2 separate regions of the Homo sapiens genome follow, and region 2 is linked to region 1. The links come from fine-mapping of genetic effects on gene expression. Tissue or cell type: prefrontal cortex. Region 1 holds a variant in brackets; the other region holds the start of a gene. All regions are shown on one strand. Distances are between the middles of the regions.

Region 1 (8,100 bases):
ATGCTGTCTGCAGCAAATCTGTTGCTGGGGCCGACTCCCAAACGGGGCTGTCGAGGCCCGGTTGGCTTTCAGAGGCGTATCCATGGGAGTAGGTGTCATGTATCAAATAGGAGATTCAAAGTCAGCTGTTACCACGGCTACAGAAATGCCAGTCTTTTCCTAAGAGTGCGAATGGACACACACATGTGCATACGTGCACACATGCACCCTCAGGCTCTCACGGAGCCCTGGGTGCCTACAGCAGGACGTCCAGGACGGGAACACCACAGTGCACTACGCCCTCCTCAGCGCCTCCTGGGCTGTGCTCTGCTACTACGCCGAAGACCTGCGCCTGAAGCTGCCCTTGCAGGTACGTGGGAGGCATGGGGACAGGGTGGGCCTGGAGGTCCCGGTCCCCACACACTGCGTTCAGCTGCCAGTGCCGACAGCCTCAGGAGGGCTCCCTGCTCAGAGGCCTCAGGGGCTCCTCCTACCCACCCCGACACCAGGCCCCAAGAAACCTCACTGGGCAAACAGGGCAGGTGGTGGCATCCCCCACAGTGGGCTCCCGGGAGGTGGGGTCGGGTGAACAGTGCGTGTGCACTGAGCTGGCCCCTCCAGGCCCAGACCCCCGCCAGGCCACCTGCTGAGGGCCCTGCCTATGAACATGGGGTGGAGAAGGCTGCCTCCAGGTGACCTCAGGAAGATGGGCCTGGACGTGGGTCCGCCTCCCACCGCACTGGCTGGCCTGACCCTCACTGCGTGCGGGTGGGAGACACGCTACTTACCAGTTCCCACCCCTTTTCCACTTGAGGGTCTCTGGGCTACAAATTGACAAGCTGAGCAGCCTCAGAGCCTGAGGCCCTGAGAGGGGAAGGGGCTCACCTGGGCCCTCACAGGGTCTACCACGCTCCTTCCCTCTGCTGGAGCCCCTTCGCCCATTGCCCAATTTGCAAACTTGCACAACCTCCACTCCCACCTGGGGCATTTGCCCTCCTCCCGGGAGTGGGAGGAGCCACTGACGTTTCCTTCCAGGAGTTACCCAACCAGGCCTCCAACTGGTCGGCCGGCCTGCTGGCATGGCTGGGCATCCCCAACGTCCTGCTGGAGGTTGTGCCAGACGTACCCCCCGAGTACTACTCCTGCCGGTTCAGAGTGAACAAGCTGCCACGGTAAGGCAGGGGCCCTGCCAGTCGGAGGAAAGAACAGGAGTGAGTGGGAGTCGGTGAATGAGTGAGCGGAACTTGGTGCTTCCCCAGGACTCTCCTCACCTGGAGTTTTCGGCAGGGAATCTGAGGCCAGGTGCGCACGCTTATCGCGTGTCTGCATTTCCAAATGCCGCTGCGTCAGCCGGGCTGGGGCGGTTGTGCTGCAGGACAGATAACCCCCCCAAGGCCCAGTGGCTGGACACGCGAGGTCTAGTTCCTGCTCAGGCACACGTGTGGTGGGGCGGCGCGGTACCTGCTCACCACGGTCTCTCAGGGCCCGGGCGATGGAGGCTCTGTCTCGTCACAGCGTCCCCAACTGTGGAGGTAGAATACAGGGACACGTTTGGCCCATGCTGGCTCCCTCCTGGAAACGACACGTGTGTCGTCCACACACATTACTACTGGACAAAGCCAGTTGCACTATGGCACCAGGCCTACAGACTAGGGGAGTCCAGAAGTGGCAGGGACCACTGTCGGGGAACCAGTGCTGAAGGCGGCCTTTCTGCCACACGGGATGCCTCCTTTTGGGGCTGGTGGGAAATTCAGCCTCACTCCGTGTTGCCCCACCTATGGCTTCCCAAGATTCTGGTTTCCCAGGGAGGGCCCCTACCCAGTCACTGTCCGCACTGCCCACGAGCACCCTCGGCCCCATGACGGAGCTTCAGGGCGGCACACGGGATGGGGCTCCCTGGCCAGCCTGGCCCTCTCTACACCGCCCTGCCCTGTGCCCAACCACAGTTTGCTTCCCCCCACCCTGTGTGTGGTGAGGGGTTCTGGGTATCTGGGGGCCTGCTGTGGCCTCCTGTTCCTGGGGATGTGAAAAGGCATAATCGGGAGCTGCTGACCTGCCGGGGAGCCAGCTGCTTCTCCTGGGGCGAGGGCTGTGTCCGCAGGCCTGTGCTTCTGCGTGCGCGCCAGCACCCGGGCCCCAAACCTTCTGCACCGTTCACATGCCCGCAGCTTCCTCCAAACCTTCTGCACCGTTCACATGCCCACAGCTTCCTCCAAACCTTCTGCACTGTTCACATGCCCACAGCTTCCTCGGGAGTGACAACCAGGACACCTTCTTCACAAGCACCAAGAGGCACCAAATTGTGAGTGGGGGTTCCCTGCCGCGGGCCCCAAACCCTGACCTGGCTCTGAGGATCCTGCCAGCCCCCAGCCTCCATGGATGCAGAAAGGCCTGCTTGAGACCAGAGGGCCGAGGCCTGGAGCCCGGAGGCTTTGGAAACTTTAGAGGCTGACCTCACCTCGCTACACAGGGCAGGCCATGACCTGGGATTGGGAAGGGGTGGGGAAGGGCCCAGTTCCCCTCCGGGACCCCAGGGCTCAAAATAGATATTGGATCTATGGACATGTGGGACAGCCGAGACTAGCCCCAGGCAGGGTGGGTCCTGCCGGCTGGGAGCAGACCTGCCCTGCAGCGTCGGAGGAAGGGTGGCCCCAGGCGGGGCAGGCCCAAGGCACCCGGCAGGAGGCCTGTTCCTGAGGCCTACCCAAGAGAGGCCCTGCTGACCACCACAGGGCACACAGTCACGTGGCTGCCCAGGTAGGGGGCAGGGCACACCCTGGACACAGCTGCCAGGCTGCAGTGTTCACCGTCACCCAGGGTGCAGGTCCAGAGTGGGCTGCGCACGGCCAGGCAGGGGCCCAGCTTCAGGTGCAGACTCGACTCCCACATGCCGTGTGGCTCTGGTCAAGGACTCTGAGCCTGCACAGTGGGAGAATGAGCACTACCCTGGCACAGGGGCGTCCTGCATGTGCATGTGCGGTGGTGACACAAAGTCCCAAGCCTTTCCATCAGATCGCTATTGTCACCAGAAGGCTGAGGGAGGCCGTCCATGGCCTTGGCCTAAAGACAGGCTAGCTAGGACTTCCCTGTTCTGCTATCACGTGACAAGTGACCTGCGCCATCCTCCACATCCCCTGCAGCTGTTTGAGATCCTGGCCAAGACCCCGTATGGCCACGAGAAGAAAAACCTGCTTGGGATCCACCAGCTGCTGGCAGAGGGTGTCCTCAGTGCCGCCTTCCCCCTGCATGACGTGAGCTCGGGGGCTGGGGGCTCCAGCCTGGGTATGGGAGATGAGTCCCCTTGGGTCCTGTTGGCCCCCAGGGAGGCGGGTGTGGGGCAGGCATGGTCAGCCGGCGTGGCCACCCAGGAGTCAGAACACTAAATGCACACACATGCGGCGATGTGATCAGGCCATCCCGTGGCCTGTCCGGGGCCTCAGGTCCGGCTCTGCGGGGACTGCAGCCCACACTGCGGTGCCCAACACGGGAACAGGCCGGTCCCTGGGCTCTAGATGCTATGGCTCTGTCTCTCTGGGTAGCGTCTCTTGCTGGGAAAGACAGTGAGGTCTCCTATCCCCCTCCAGAAGCTGGGTAAACTGAGGCAATGCCAAAGCGGGCACTGACCAGGGCAGCTGCCGCTGCACCTGTTCCTATCAGCGTTACCATCATCCCTGAGAAAACAGCCACTGTGGGGAGCAGAAGGCCATTTATTCCCCCACCCGCCCAAGCCTTCCCCCTTGGCCGAGCAGGGGAGGGGCCTTGCAGGCAGCCAGGGCATCTGGGGCCTGGTCAGGCCTGAGCCCACTGCTGCATGGCCAGGGGTCCAGTCCTGCCCCAACGCCGTCATGAGGGTTAAATGAAAAAGTGGGTGTGGAAATGCCAGGTGTCCCACCTTGCTGGGGTGGCTCCTCCCGCCAGCCAGGGCCCAGAATGCACAGCACAGGACACGAGCCTGGGGACTCTCCAACCCAGAGAAGGTGCTGGACCCTGGACCACCGCCACTGGCTTCTCTCAGGGTGGCCTCTCCAGGCCCTTCCCCGCCCTGAACCCTCGAAGTCCAGGAGTCAGAGGGGCCTCACCACATATGTCCCCTCCTCAGAGAGGTCCTCCCGGACCACCCTGTACCCACCCCTCCACATTACTCTATTTTTTCTTCATGGAGCAATCCCAGACTCCCAGGCCTGTCTGCCCATGTCCCACACTGAAGCCCCTGCACCTACAACAGTGCCCAGTGGGGTCAGCTGGGGGAGCCTCCCACCCACAGGCCGCTCGCCCCCAGGGCCCCTTCAAGACGCCCCCAGAGGGCCCGCAGGCTCCACGCCTCAACCAGCGCCAAGTCCTTTTCCAGCACTGGGCGCGCTGGGGCAAGTGGAACAAGTACCAGCCCCTGGACCACGTGCGCAGGTACTTCGGGGAGAAGGTGGCCCTCTACTTCGCCTGGCTCGGTGAGTCCCCCCCGCTGCCCCCCAGACCACCTGGGCCCCCCCAGCTTGGTGTCAGGTTGTAACAATTTGCCAGTCCGTACCCCTGGAGGGCAGCGTGCGTGGGGGCCTGGACGGTGGGCGCAGCTCTTGGCTCGACCGGGCTGCCCTCCTGGCTCCCCTCAAGCCCACTCACTCTAACTGGGCGCCATGACGATGCCGGGCCCTGGCCTCCTAATGCTCCAGTAACAGTGCTGAGAGCCGCTTCTGCTGGTGGGGGTCTCTCCTGACTCCCTCCCCGAATGTCACTGGCCCATGAGGCCCTGGGGCAACCCCAGGAACTTCCATCCTAGGGAGGTCGCCCCTGCCTGGGTCCAGGCCAAGCCTCTCATCTCCTCCAAGCAGGCCATCTGCCCCAGGCAACCCCAGAGCTGTTCCTCCTGGGTCCTGGCTGCCCTCACCCCACTCAGCTCTTGGCACCCTCCCTTCCCCATCCTGGGTCAGACCCAACCCCTTCATTCTGTGCCCCAGAACTTCCAAAGCCCTTTCTCATCCGCACACACAGCCCCACCGTGGACCCAGACAATAGAGCCAGCCAGGGCAGCGGGCGGGGCCGGCAGGCATGGAAGGGCAGCCGGGGCACAGCATCGGGGCAGAGGGACAGCTCCT[G/A]TGTGCCAGGACTCACCCGGCCATCTCAGGACCTGGAGCAGCAACCCTGGGACAGCACGGCCAGGCTGGGGGCTTCTGGGGGCAAGCAGGGCCAGGGCTGGATCTGGGCTCCAGGCAGACTTGCGTTTCACAGCAGTCACTTTGGCCAGCAGAGAGTCAGGCAGGAGACAGGACACCAGGCCTGGGACTGGACTAGCCCTATGGGAGGCAGTGGGGGTACATGCTGAGGGCCTGGGGTAACTGAGGGATTGCGGCTGTGGTCAGATGAGGCAGGGGCCAGGGTGGGGGTTGGGTGGTGGGGAGGGAGGTACCCGGAATGACTCGTGGTTTCCCTGGGGCTGGAACACGGGTGGGCCCACAGCTCTGTGGTGGGCAGGATGTAGAGGGACTTCTCTGTCCGTCCCGGGCAGGTTGGTTGGAGTGAGCTGGCTGAGGAGAAGGCATCCAGAGGTGGAGAGCCTGGTGGGCTGGAGCCCCAGCAGCACTGGTGTTGGGGTCAATGTGGTAGGGGTGTCCAGAGTCTAGGGCAGAGGCCCAGGAGGGTGGGCCGTGCCAGAGCTGCCAGGGAGAGCTGTGTACCTCTTGGCCTCCTCACATAGGGCCCCAGCCCCCAAGCTGGGCTGAGGGTGGTCCCTAGGGGACAAGCATGGCTGTGCAGACCCCTACCTGGGGCCCCCAAGCCTGGGTTCCTGATGGTGGACCCCTGCCATCCTCTCTACAGGGTTTTACACAGGCTGGCTCCTGCCAGCGGCAGTGGTGGGCACACTGGTGTTCCTGGTGGGCTGCTTCCTGGTGTTCTCAGACATACCCACGTGAGTGTTCCCTCTCCGCAGCTCTGGGGCCTGGTGCTGGGCCTCCAGATGGGTGTGGGGCGGGGGGACCCCTAGGTGCTAGGTCCTGTGCAGACAGCTGGTGCTTGAGGTGATTGAGGTGTGAGGTGAGCACATGCCTGTCTTCAGGAGTGTCACAGAGGGCCTTGTGGACATGGCTGAAAGGCTGGCAGGTGGACAGGAGTGCTCCCAGGCTGACAGGTGGACAGGAGTGCTCCCAGGCTGACAGGTGGACAGGAGTGCTCCCAAACTGACAGGTGGTCAGGAGCACTCCCAGACTGACAGGCAGACGGGGCGCTCCCAGGCTGACAGGTAGTCAGGAGTGCTCCCAGGCTGGCACCGGTGGATAGGAGTGCTCCCAGGCTGACAGGTGGTCAGGAGTGCTCCCAGGCTGATAGGTGGACAGGAGTGCTCCCAGGCTGACAGGTAGCTAGGACTGCTCTCAGGCTGAAACAGGTAGACAGGTGTGCTCTCAGGCTGACACAGGTGGATAAGAGTGCTCCAAGGCTGACACAGGTGGACAGGAGTGCTCCCAGTCTGACAGGTGGACAGGAGTGCTCCAAGGCTGACACAGGTGGACAGGAGTGCTCCCAGTCTGACAGGTGGACAGGAGTGCTCCCAGGCTGACACAGGTGGACAGGAGTGCTCCCAGCCTGACACAGGTGGGCAGGAGTGCTCCCAGCCTGACACAGGTGGACAGGAGTGCTCCAAGGCTGACACAGGTGGACAGGAGTGTTCCCAGTCTGACAAGTGGACAGGAGTGCTCCCAGGCTGACAGGTGGACAGGAGTGCTCCCAGTCTGACAGGTGGACAGGAGTGCTCCCAGTCTGACAGGTGGACAGGAGTGCTCCCAGGCTGACAGGTGGGCAGGAGTGCTCCCAGCCTGACACAGGTGGGCAGGAGTGCTACCAGGCTGACACAGGTGGACAGGAGTGCTCCCAGGCTGACATAGGTGGACAGGAGTGCTCCCAGCCTGACAGGTGGACAGGAGTGCTCCCAGGCTGACACAGGTGGACAGGAGTGCTCCCAGCCTGACACAGGTGGGCAGGAGTGCTCCCAGCCTGACACAGGTGGACAGGAGTGCTCCAAGGCTGACAGGTGGACAGGAGTGCTCCCAGGTTGACACAAGTGGACAGGAGTGCTCCCAGTCTGACAGGTGGACAGGAGTGCTCCCAGGCTGACAGCTGGGCAGGAATGCTCCCAGCCTGACACAGGTGGGCAGGAGTGCTCCCAGGCTGACACAGGTGGACAGGAGTGCTCCCAGGCTGACAGGTGGACAGGAGTGCTCCCAGGCTGACACAGGTAGACAGGAGTGCTCCCAGTCTGACAGGTGGACAGGAGTGCTCCCAGGCTGACAGGTGGACAGGAGTGCTCCCAGGCTGACACAGGTGGTCAGGAGTGCTCCCAGTCTGACAGGTGGACAGGAGTGCTCCCAGGCTGACACAGGTGGACAGGAGTGCTCCCAGCCTGACACAGGTGGGCAGGAGTGCTCCCAGCCTGACACAGGTGGACAGGAGTGCTCCAAGGCTGACACAGGTGGACAGGAGTGTTCCCAGTCTGACAAGTGGACAGGAGTGCTCCCAGGCTGACAGGTGGACAGGAGTGCTCCCAGTCTGACAGGTGGACAGGAGTGCTCCCAGGCTGACAGGTGGACAGGAGTGCTCCCAGGCTGACAGGTGGGCAGGAGTGCTCCCAGCCAGACACAGGTGGGCAGGAGTGCTACCAGGCTGACACAGGTGGACAGGAGTGCTCCCAGGCTGACATAGGTGGACAGGAGTGCTCCCAGCCTGACAGGTGGACAGGAGTGCTCCCAGGCTGACACAGGTGGACAGGAGTGCTCCCAGCCTGACACAGGTGGGCAGGAGTGCTCCCAGCCTGACACAGGTGGACAGGAGTGCTCCAAGGCTGACAGGTGGACAGGAGTGCTCCCAGGTTGACACAAGTGGACAGGAGTGCTCCCAGTCTGACAGGTGGACAGGAGTGCTCCCAGGCTGACAGGTGGGCAGGAATGCTCCCAGCCTGACACAGGTGGGCAGGAGTGCTCCCAGGCTGACACAGGTGGACAGGAGTGCTCCCAGGCTGACAGGTGGACAGGAGTGCTCCCAGGCTGACACAGGTAGACAGGAGTGCTCCCAGTCTGACAGGTGGACAGGAGTGCTCCCAGGCTGACAGGTGGACAGGAGTGCTCCCAGGCTGACACA
Region 2 (8,100 bases), 110 kb after region 1:
CTGAAGTAGATACTCTGCAGGGGAGGAAACATGATTAGGGGAAGGATGTTGGCACTTCTTTCTTACAAGCCTTTCTAGGATTATCTGACTCTACAAATGACATGAAGCTGTAACCTTGATTTGAAATAAGATTAATATGAATGCTAATAAAAAGTAGTAAGGGAGAGTATGTAGTCAATGTATTCTTACCAAATTAACAACAAGTATCAACAAGATGACTAACACAACCACATGATGTCCAGACACGTCTCAGAACAAATGTCTAGCTCATCTTCAACGGTATTCGAGGAACTTCAGTGTGCTTGGTAAAACAATAGCCTACTAGGGATTTCACTTCTAAAATGTCTCTGACTTTAGAAATACCAAAAAATAACATGTAACCAAGTTTTAAAATATTATACACATGAAAAAAGGTTCTTTTCATTATTTTCTTGGTTTCCAGATGTTGAACGTTGTGGTGCTTTTACAATTGAAGAGAAAAAGCATTCTGACACATTATACTGGTTGGGGTTCTCTGCTTTTCTACTTGGTCAAAAACCTTTACACGCATTTTGGACTTTGTGTCATCATAACTTGGCAATTGGGAAAGCCGCATGATATGCTTCTTTCAGAACTTGGTTACTTCTTACCAAAAGAGGGAAAAGCTTTCGTATCACCATTTGCCTATGGGATGGATGCACAATGAACGGGCCATACCAAATAAAAATATCACTTTGTACTCCAAAAAGCATGTTCTCTGCTTAAGCCCTTTCTGTAAGTTTCAGCTGGGACGCACTAATGGAGAATCCATATGACCCACGAAGGATCGTAAGATATCCCAGTGGACCCGGCACAATCATCTCAAATTCTGTTCAGGTCAGAGTATCTTAGATAAAACTCACTGAAGGGCATCAAGTCCTTCAGTACACAGTCTGAGCCAAGCCCTCTACCATTTGCCATGGCAAGAGTATACCAAATTCTAAACCTGTTGCTCACGTATGCCACCAACTATAAATGTCAGCCTCCTCTTTCCTAGTCTTCCTGTCCACTCAGCACCACCTGGAAAAACTCTTACTCGTCTTTTAAACCGCAGTTCAAGGACCACATTCTGTAGGAAGACTTTCCAACAGGTAACCACTGCCTATTTCCTATGTCCACACCTTACACATATTTCTATCATTGCACTTATCACACCATAATGTAATTACTCTTCTACAAATAAGTCTCTCACACTAGACCACAAGCTGCCTGAGGAAAAGAAAAGTCTATATCCTCTTTTTTTGTTGGCTTTTTGAGACACAGTCTCACTCTGTCGCCCAGGCTAGAGTGCAGTGCTACAATCTCGGCTCACTGCAACCTCCGCCTCCTGGGTTCAAGCGATTCTCATGCCTCAGCCTCTTGAGCAGCTGGGATTACAGGCGCGCGCCACCATGCCAGGCTAATTTTTGTATTTTTAGTAGAGACAGGGTTTCACCATGTTGGTCAGGCTGGTCTCGAACTCCTGACCTCAAGTGTCCACCCGCCTCGACCTCCCAAAGTGCTGGGATTACAAGCGTGAGCCACTGCACCTGGTCGAAAAGACTATATCCTCTCAACCTTTGTATCTGCAGAACCCTTAACCCTACACAGCAATTTCCAGCAAATATTTTTTTGAATTGAAATGAAGAAGTGAGGTCATGAGGCTGAAGTCAGACAACTGGAAGGCCAAAACAACAAAACCTGGAAAAATACGTATTTACTCAAGAAGAAATTCTCCCACCAGGCCACTGAGAAGTTAGCTTTGCCCACTGGAGAGGACACTGTAACAGGGATTCAAGTAAGCCTAGTGGCGCTGAGGGACGTGATATAGGTCAACTATATCTTTGAGGTGCTCTCCTTACACTCAATGCACTTTTACCCGAATGACGTTAATTTGACTCCTGATAAGATGAGCTAAGTCCCTTCAACAGTGCTTGGCACCAAGCAAAACTAATAGCAGTAACAGGAAAGTTTAATCCTCATGATGAATTATTTAATGGGGTTTCAAACGCTGTCCCTGAGACTTGAGGCAGTAGGCTCCAGCTCCATTTTCCCCAAGTCTAAAACTTGATAGGTTGATGTTTCAGACTCAGAGATTCGGTAATCCAAATGATGGAAATAATTCTTACCCAAACACCTTTTCAACTATTTTTAAATACTGTTGCCAAGCATCCTAATATCATGTGTACTTAATGAATTTAGCCTAGGGATACTTTTACATGTCAAAAAATCAAAATATAAACCTAAGCACTACGTTTCATCCAGTGTTTCAGCATCCCAGATTTGCTTCCCTAAATGAACATTAAGCTTATTATGCAATGTGCCGCTACCAGGAGCCTTAGACAAAACCCTAATTGTGACTTAACCTATCTTAATAGGGTTTTAAGGAAGTTAGCTGCTAAGAAAGTGACTATCCTTAAGCAGACACCAAATAAATGTGAAGTCATTGATTGAGGGCTTAGGGTATAGGTAGCTATGAATCTGAGGACATAAAACGCAAAACTGAGGGGCAAATCGTCATGTTCCTTAAGATTACGACTCATCCACATTCCTTCAGCCGTTTAATTTCACCATAATAGGCACTGTTTAATAAGCAAAGCCCAAGTCGACTTCCTTCGATTTTACATGGCGTCCAAACACCATGTCAAGTCTGACCCTCTCATTTTTTAAGTCGAATGGAGAGGATATGTAGCAGCTAGCCTTGAGCACCTAACCACTTTTCAAAGGAGCTACGCACAAAAATACCCTAGCAACATGCCACGGTGTCAGAAAGGCTCAGGTTCCCAACACCATGCGGGTCAGCCATTAGGAACTCAGGAAGTGTTTCCTCTAAGCGGGGGAAACCTAGGAAGGCTTCCTGAACGAGGGGTATTTGCGCCAAGCCTTGACGTGAGTCTCGAACAGTTGCAGTGCCTCCAGGCCACGCGGGAGGGAGGAAAGGACACCCCGGGCCGGGGCACAACCCGCGGGCCGGAGCCGCCCGCGCCCATCCCGCTCAGGCCGCAGCCAGGCACGGCACCCTCCCGTCCCCGAGCCACGTCGCTGCTCGTGGGCTCGCGGAGCACTCCCCAGGTCTCACCTCGGGCCCCACACCAGAAGGAGAAAGCTAGGGGCCGCGCCAGCTCCGCCCTCCCCCGCGGGGCGGCGGGCCCCAGCCCGGGCACAGGAAGGCCACGTCCCCGGGGAGGGACGCCCGACTCGATGGTCTGCGCAGGGCCCGTCGGCCCCACGTGACGTGCGCGCAGCCAATCCCAGAGAGGCCCCCCGATCATCGAGACGGCGGCGGTGGTGGGCTAGACGAGTTTCGCGCGGCCGCTCGCCGTCCCCCGCCCAGTCGTACTCGGCGCCCCAGCTCGGTGCTGCCGCCATCTTCTTGGAGGACAGGAGGAGAGGCGAAGGCTCCCCCTCCCCGTGATCGCTCCGCACTCCCGCCACCACCTGCCCTCCCGCGACCGCCTCTCTCCTCCTCAGTGGGCACTTGTCTCCTTCTAACAAACGGCCTTCCCCCCACTCCAGTTACCCACCGCAAGGCGAAGATTCTCATTACCTGTTCCACTCTTATAAGCATAAGAAAACCGAGCTCATAAGGTAGGAACTGTGGCGAAACAGGGACAAGCCGCCATCTTGGTAAAGGAGAAGAGGCTACGCTTGACCTCCCCCCCCACCCCCAGCCTCTATATGGCCAACTGCCGTGGGAGGAGCACGGCGCTTGCGCAGAGGCGGACAACGCGGACGACTCTGGGCTTGCGCACTCGGAAGCCGGCCGCATGGGGGAGGGGAAGAAGGCCAGGTCGCACTGAGCCAGGAAGCAGTTGGCAAAGGGGCGGGGTGACGCGGTGACGCAATCCGCCTGCGCGCTGGGCGGGGCGGGGCGGGCTGGGGCGGGCTGTGAGCGGACCGCGAGCGCTGGGCGGGTCCGCGGCGCGGTCGGTCGGCGCCTGTTCTCGGGCTGTTTGGCGGGTGAGTGTCTCGCCGGTGTACCCCGCACAAGTTGTGGGCCGGCCCTCCCGAGGAGCTGCGGGGGACGCGCCGCTCGTCCCATACTCTCGGGCGGTGGTCGGCTGGCTCTGGGGTGCCGGCGGGGCGGTGTGGGGGAGGGGCGGCCGAGCCCAGGCTCTTCGGCACTTATCGTGGGCTCCCCCGTCCCGGGCGGTCCTAGTGCCGGCGACAGTGGCTCCGACACGGGCAGGCCCGGGCGCGGGAGTGGGGATTCCGGTGACCCCTTGTTGACCCTGCGGGAATTCCTCTGCACTGTCGTCGGTGCTGGGCCTCGGGGCGTCGAGTGCGGTCGAGGTCGGGAGGTTTGGTGCTTGGAGGGAGGATACAGGTTTAGGCCCGACAAACACTTAGAGCTTGTGTGGCCATCTTGTCTTTCTAACGGTGCCATTTCCTCCCTGAGGCGTGGAGGACTGGCCAGCCCCCAAACCTCCAAGCCCATCGGCTGGATGCCGTGGATAAGCGAGGGGAGAGCGACTAGGCCCTGTCTGCGGGTACCTTCGGCGAGGAGAGGCGACGAAGGTCTGCACCAGCGAGGCACGGACAGGCAGCAGGGGGTAGGGTATAGGGTTGGAGGCCGCCGAGTTGGCCCGGGGATGAGGAGCAAACCTGTGGCTTCCGTGGTCTCAGTGGAGTCCCAACTGTGACCTGGCCTACTGGCCCAGACAAACCTGGCTTGCTTTTTTACCTTTTCGGTCTAATTCTTGTCAGTGCCACCAGACCTTGTCCTCTCTCCACGGAAACACACGAACCAACTACACTGAACTTCTTGTAGTTCAAACTTCTGCACCTTTGGCCATTGCCCAAACTCTTAAATCTGGCTACTTCCCACCTTAACTGCCTTCTCCTTACCTAGTCTGTGCTTGTGGGATTCCGCCCAAATTAGATTTCCTCCAGACAGGCTTAGGTGTTTACCTGATGTTCCAGATGGTATTTGTCCAGTGGACTATTGGTGCTGTGAGGGCAGGGCACATGTTGTCACCCATACTCATTGCCTCGGTTGGTGTCTAGCACCTAGTAGGTTCTCAAATACTTTTTGAATCACAGTGCCTGCCGATATATTTAATGTTTCAAAATAGTTCTGCCGTCATAAAGAAAAACATCATGGTGTAGGGGTCATGAAAGCTGATTCTTGATACTTCTGATTTGAGCCTCATTGTTTTCAGTGATTTTTGATAGCTCCCATTAATGGGTTCTTTGCACCACCCAGCATCCTAACTCATGATGTGTACTGTTATGTATAATCTTGGCATTGATCTCATTAGCTATAAAGGTTGTCCTGATTTTTTTTCCTCAACTTCCACCTTGATTTCTCTCACCAGTGCCACAGCCAGGAATAAAGAACAAGAGCGTTTTAATTAGATCAGATTTACATTCTGACTGGCTCTTAAACTAGCAAGGTGACCTAGGGAAAGGGGCCAGGGTTTCCCTCTATCATTCATAAATGTAATTCAGGGCCCCTTTTTATCCCCAATACCAGCATACAGAAACTGCTGTAAAAGAAGAAGTTGTGGGTATTTTTTTTTTTTTTTTTGTCTGGAGGAATGGGGACACCAAAACTCATTTGGCAGCAGAGGTGAGGTAAGGCCATTTGTATTGTCTGTTCTGTTAGTAGTCATACATGCCACTTATCCCTGCCCCAGTCCCTGTTAGGAGTGTTATGTGGGTATACTGAACGTGGACCTTCCCCGAATCCAAAGAATCCAGATGCTTTGAATAAGATCATGGACCTTCCGGGTTCTACATCGCCAGATGTTGTTCATCTTCTATCTTTTGTTTTGCGAAAATTGGTTTTTTATGTGTATTGGGGTTATTCTGTGGAAGAAATAAGCTGTGGGTCAAGATTAAAGAACTTTAAACAACTTCTGGCATGTGGAATAAACACGATCTGAAGGAACAAAATTTTCATTTGACTACATTTTTGGTCCAATTTGCACCCAGTGTTTAAGTTAATCACAGTGCTTGGCAGTTTGTGTTGCTGGATCAAGGCTTTCTCACTGAAAACCATGTGCTTCAGAGGTTCATAATTCCTCTTTCACCTTCCATTTCACATTAGTTAATAAATTATGAGAGAAAACATTGTGGATCCAAGTTATGTTTCAGAAAAAAAAAAACAGGAAAAAAAAAAGATGGCAGGAGAAACTTGGTAAAGTCAAAGCAAAGTTGAAATGTCAGTTTAAGACAAATAGTTTCTCCATTTTCCCATATGTGTGCACAGGGTTCAGTGAGGCTGAGGGGTTCTGTGGAGGTGCGGGAGAGGTGCTCTATGGTATTTCTATGTTGCACTGTGTGGGTTTGAAATCAGATACATGTAATAGGTGATAAGGTAAGTGCCTGCTCTTTTCTATCCTCAGCATTGGCATTTAATCTTTCCATGTGAACTTAAAGCTCATTTTATCCAATCCTTTAAGAAAAAAGCCACACCGTTAGGGATTCCAGTTAGAAATGGACTAAATAACATACTCATTTGGGGAAAATAAAAATGATTTGATTTATGTAGGACCTGTTTTCTAGTTTGGTCCCTACTTGTTTGGATTTTTAAAAATTCTGTTGTAAATGATGTGCCCCCATTTCTATTCCTTGATATTTGTTGCTGGTACTTGACTTACTTGAGATCTTATATTTAGCTACCTTACTAAATTATCGTATTCTAGAATTTTTTTAACCAGAGTATTTGTATTTTCTTTTTTTTTTTTTTTTTGAGACAAAGTCTTGCTCTGTTGCCAGGCTGGAGTGCAGTGGTGCGATCTCAGCTCACTGCACCCTCCACCTCCCGGGTTCAAGTGATTCTGCCTCAGCCTCCTGGGTAGCTGGGATTACAGGCAGGCGCCACCACACCTGGCTAATTTTTGTATTTTTGGTAGAGACGGGGTTTCACCATGTTGGCCAGGATGGTCTCAATCTTTTGACCTCGTGATATGCCCGTCTTGGCCTCCCAAAATGCTGGGATTACAGGCATGAGCTACCGCACCCAGCCGAGTATTTGTATTTTCTGTGTATTCAGTCCAATCAGCAAAAAAGTGTTTTCTTTTGATTTTCTTGTTTCATTATATTCAGTAAACTCACCAAGGTAGTATTAAATAATCATGGTGAAATTGCAATATCTGGATCTTACTTGGATCTTGATTCACATGAAAAAAATGAGAGAATAGAGAATATGAATACTGATTGGATATTTGATTGCATTAAAGAACTAGCTATGTGTAATGGTTTGTCATTTTTAGGAGCCCTTATTTTTAGATATGTGTAGTGGAATATAAATGAAATGTTACATCTCGTATTTGCTTCATAATCATCCAGGCAGTGGCATTGATGATTGTGGAAATAGATGAAACATTATTGACCTTCAGTTGCTAATTGTTGAAGCTGGATAATGGATAGCACATGGGGGTTTTGTTTGCTTTTTGTATAGGTCTTCATGTAAAAGTTTTCATGTAAGTGCTTAAAAATAATTATGGAAGGGCATTCCTGCCGAATTATCGGTTGTAATTTAAATAGATTTAATTTTCTATTGTTTAGAAAACAGTATTTGCCTTTGGTTTTCAGAAATATCCTGAATTAGATTTAAGCAGTTTTCCTTTTTTTCTTTTTTTGAGACAGTCTCACTCTGTCACCCAGGCTGGAGTGCAGCAGCACCATCTCGGCTCACTACAGCCTTCACCTCCTGGGCTCAAGGGATCCTCCCACCTCAGTCTCCCACTTAGCTGGGATTACGGGTGCCCGCCACCACACCCAGCTAATTTTTTTGTATTTTTTGTAGAGACAGTGTTTCACCATGTTGTCCAGACTGGTCTTGAACTCCTGAGCTCAAGCGCTCCTCCTGCCTCAGCTTCCCAAAGTGCTGGTATTACAGGCGTGAGCCACCACACTCTGCCAGCAGTTTTCTTACTGTTTTCATTATGATTGGTTGCTGAATTTCATATGCCTCATCAGCATCTATTAATGCATGATTTTTTTTCCCCTATACTGTGTTGTTGGATTAATATTGGTAGATGCTTTTGATACATTCCTGGAATCTAATTGCTAGCAAATATTGTATTCAGGATTTTTGCATTTATATTTGTGAGTGAGATTGGCCTATGGCGTTCATTCATTCCTTTGTTCCTT

What was found. PIP is the estimated chance that this variant, and not a neighbour inherited with it, causes the effect.
Region 2: SEPTIN2 starts here. The variant in region 1 is fine-mapped to the expression of SEPTIN2 in prefrontal cortex (GTEx, PIP 0.98).

The regions. Positions count from the first base shown.
Region 1 is chr2:241,199,075-241,207,174 of GRCh38, forward strand. It overlaps ANO7 (anoctamin 7), which reads left to right. Exons shown (of 25, transcript NM_001370694.2): 5 at 242-349; 6 at 1,015-1,151; 7 at 2,224-2,281; 8 at 3,120-3,230; 9 at 4,259-4,424; 10 at 5,791-5,881. Among named protein-coding and RNA genes, the nearest start is that of ANO7, 14 kb to the left of the region's middle. The variant G/A (reference allele first, on the strand shown) is at 5,070.
Region 2 is chr2:241,312,026-241,320,125 of GRCh38, forward strand. SEPTIN2 (septin 2) reads left to right here and starts at 3,900. Exons shown (of 13, transcript NM_004404.5): 1 at 3,900-3,957. It overlaps HDLBP (high density lipoprotein binding protein), which reads right to left and starts at 3,647. Exons shown (of 28, transcript NM_005336.6): 1 at 3,545-3,647. RefSeq lists enhancers at 2,623-2,672, 3,553-3,602, 3,623-3,722, 3,648-4,372, 4,363-4,422 and 1 more and silencers at 2,903-3,282, 3,823-4,172.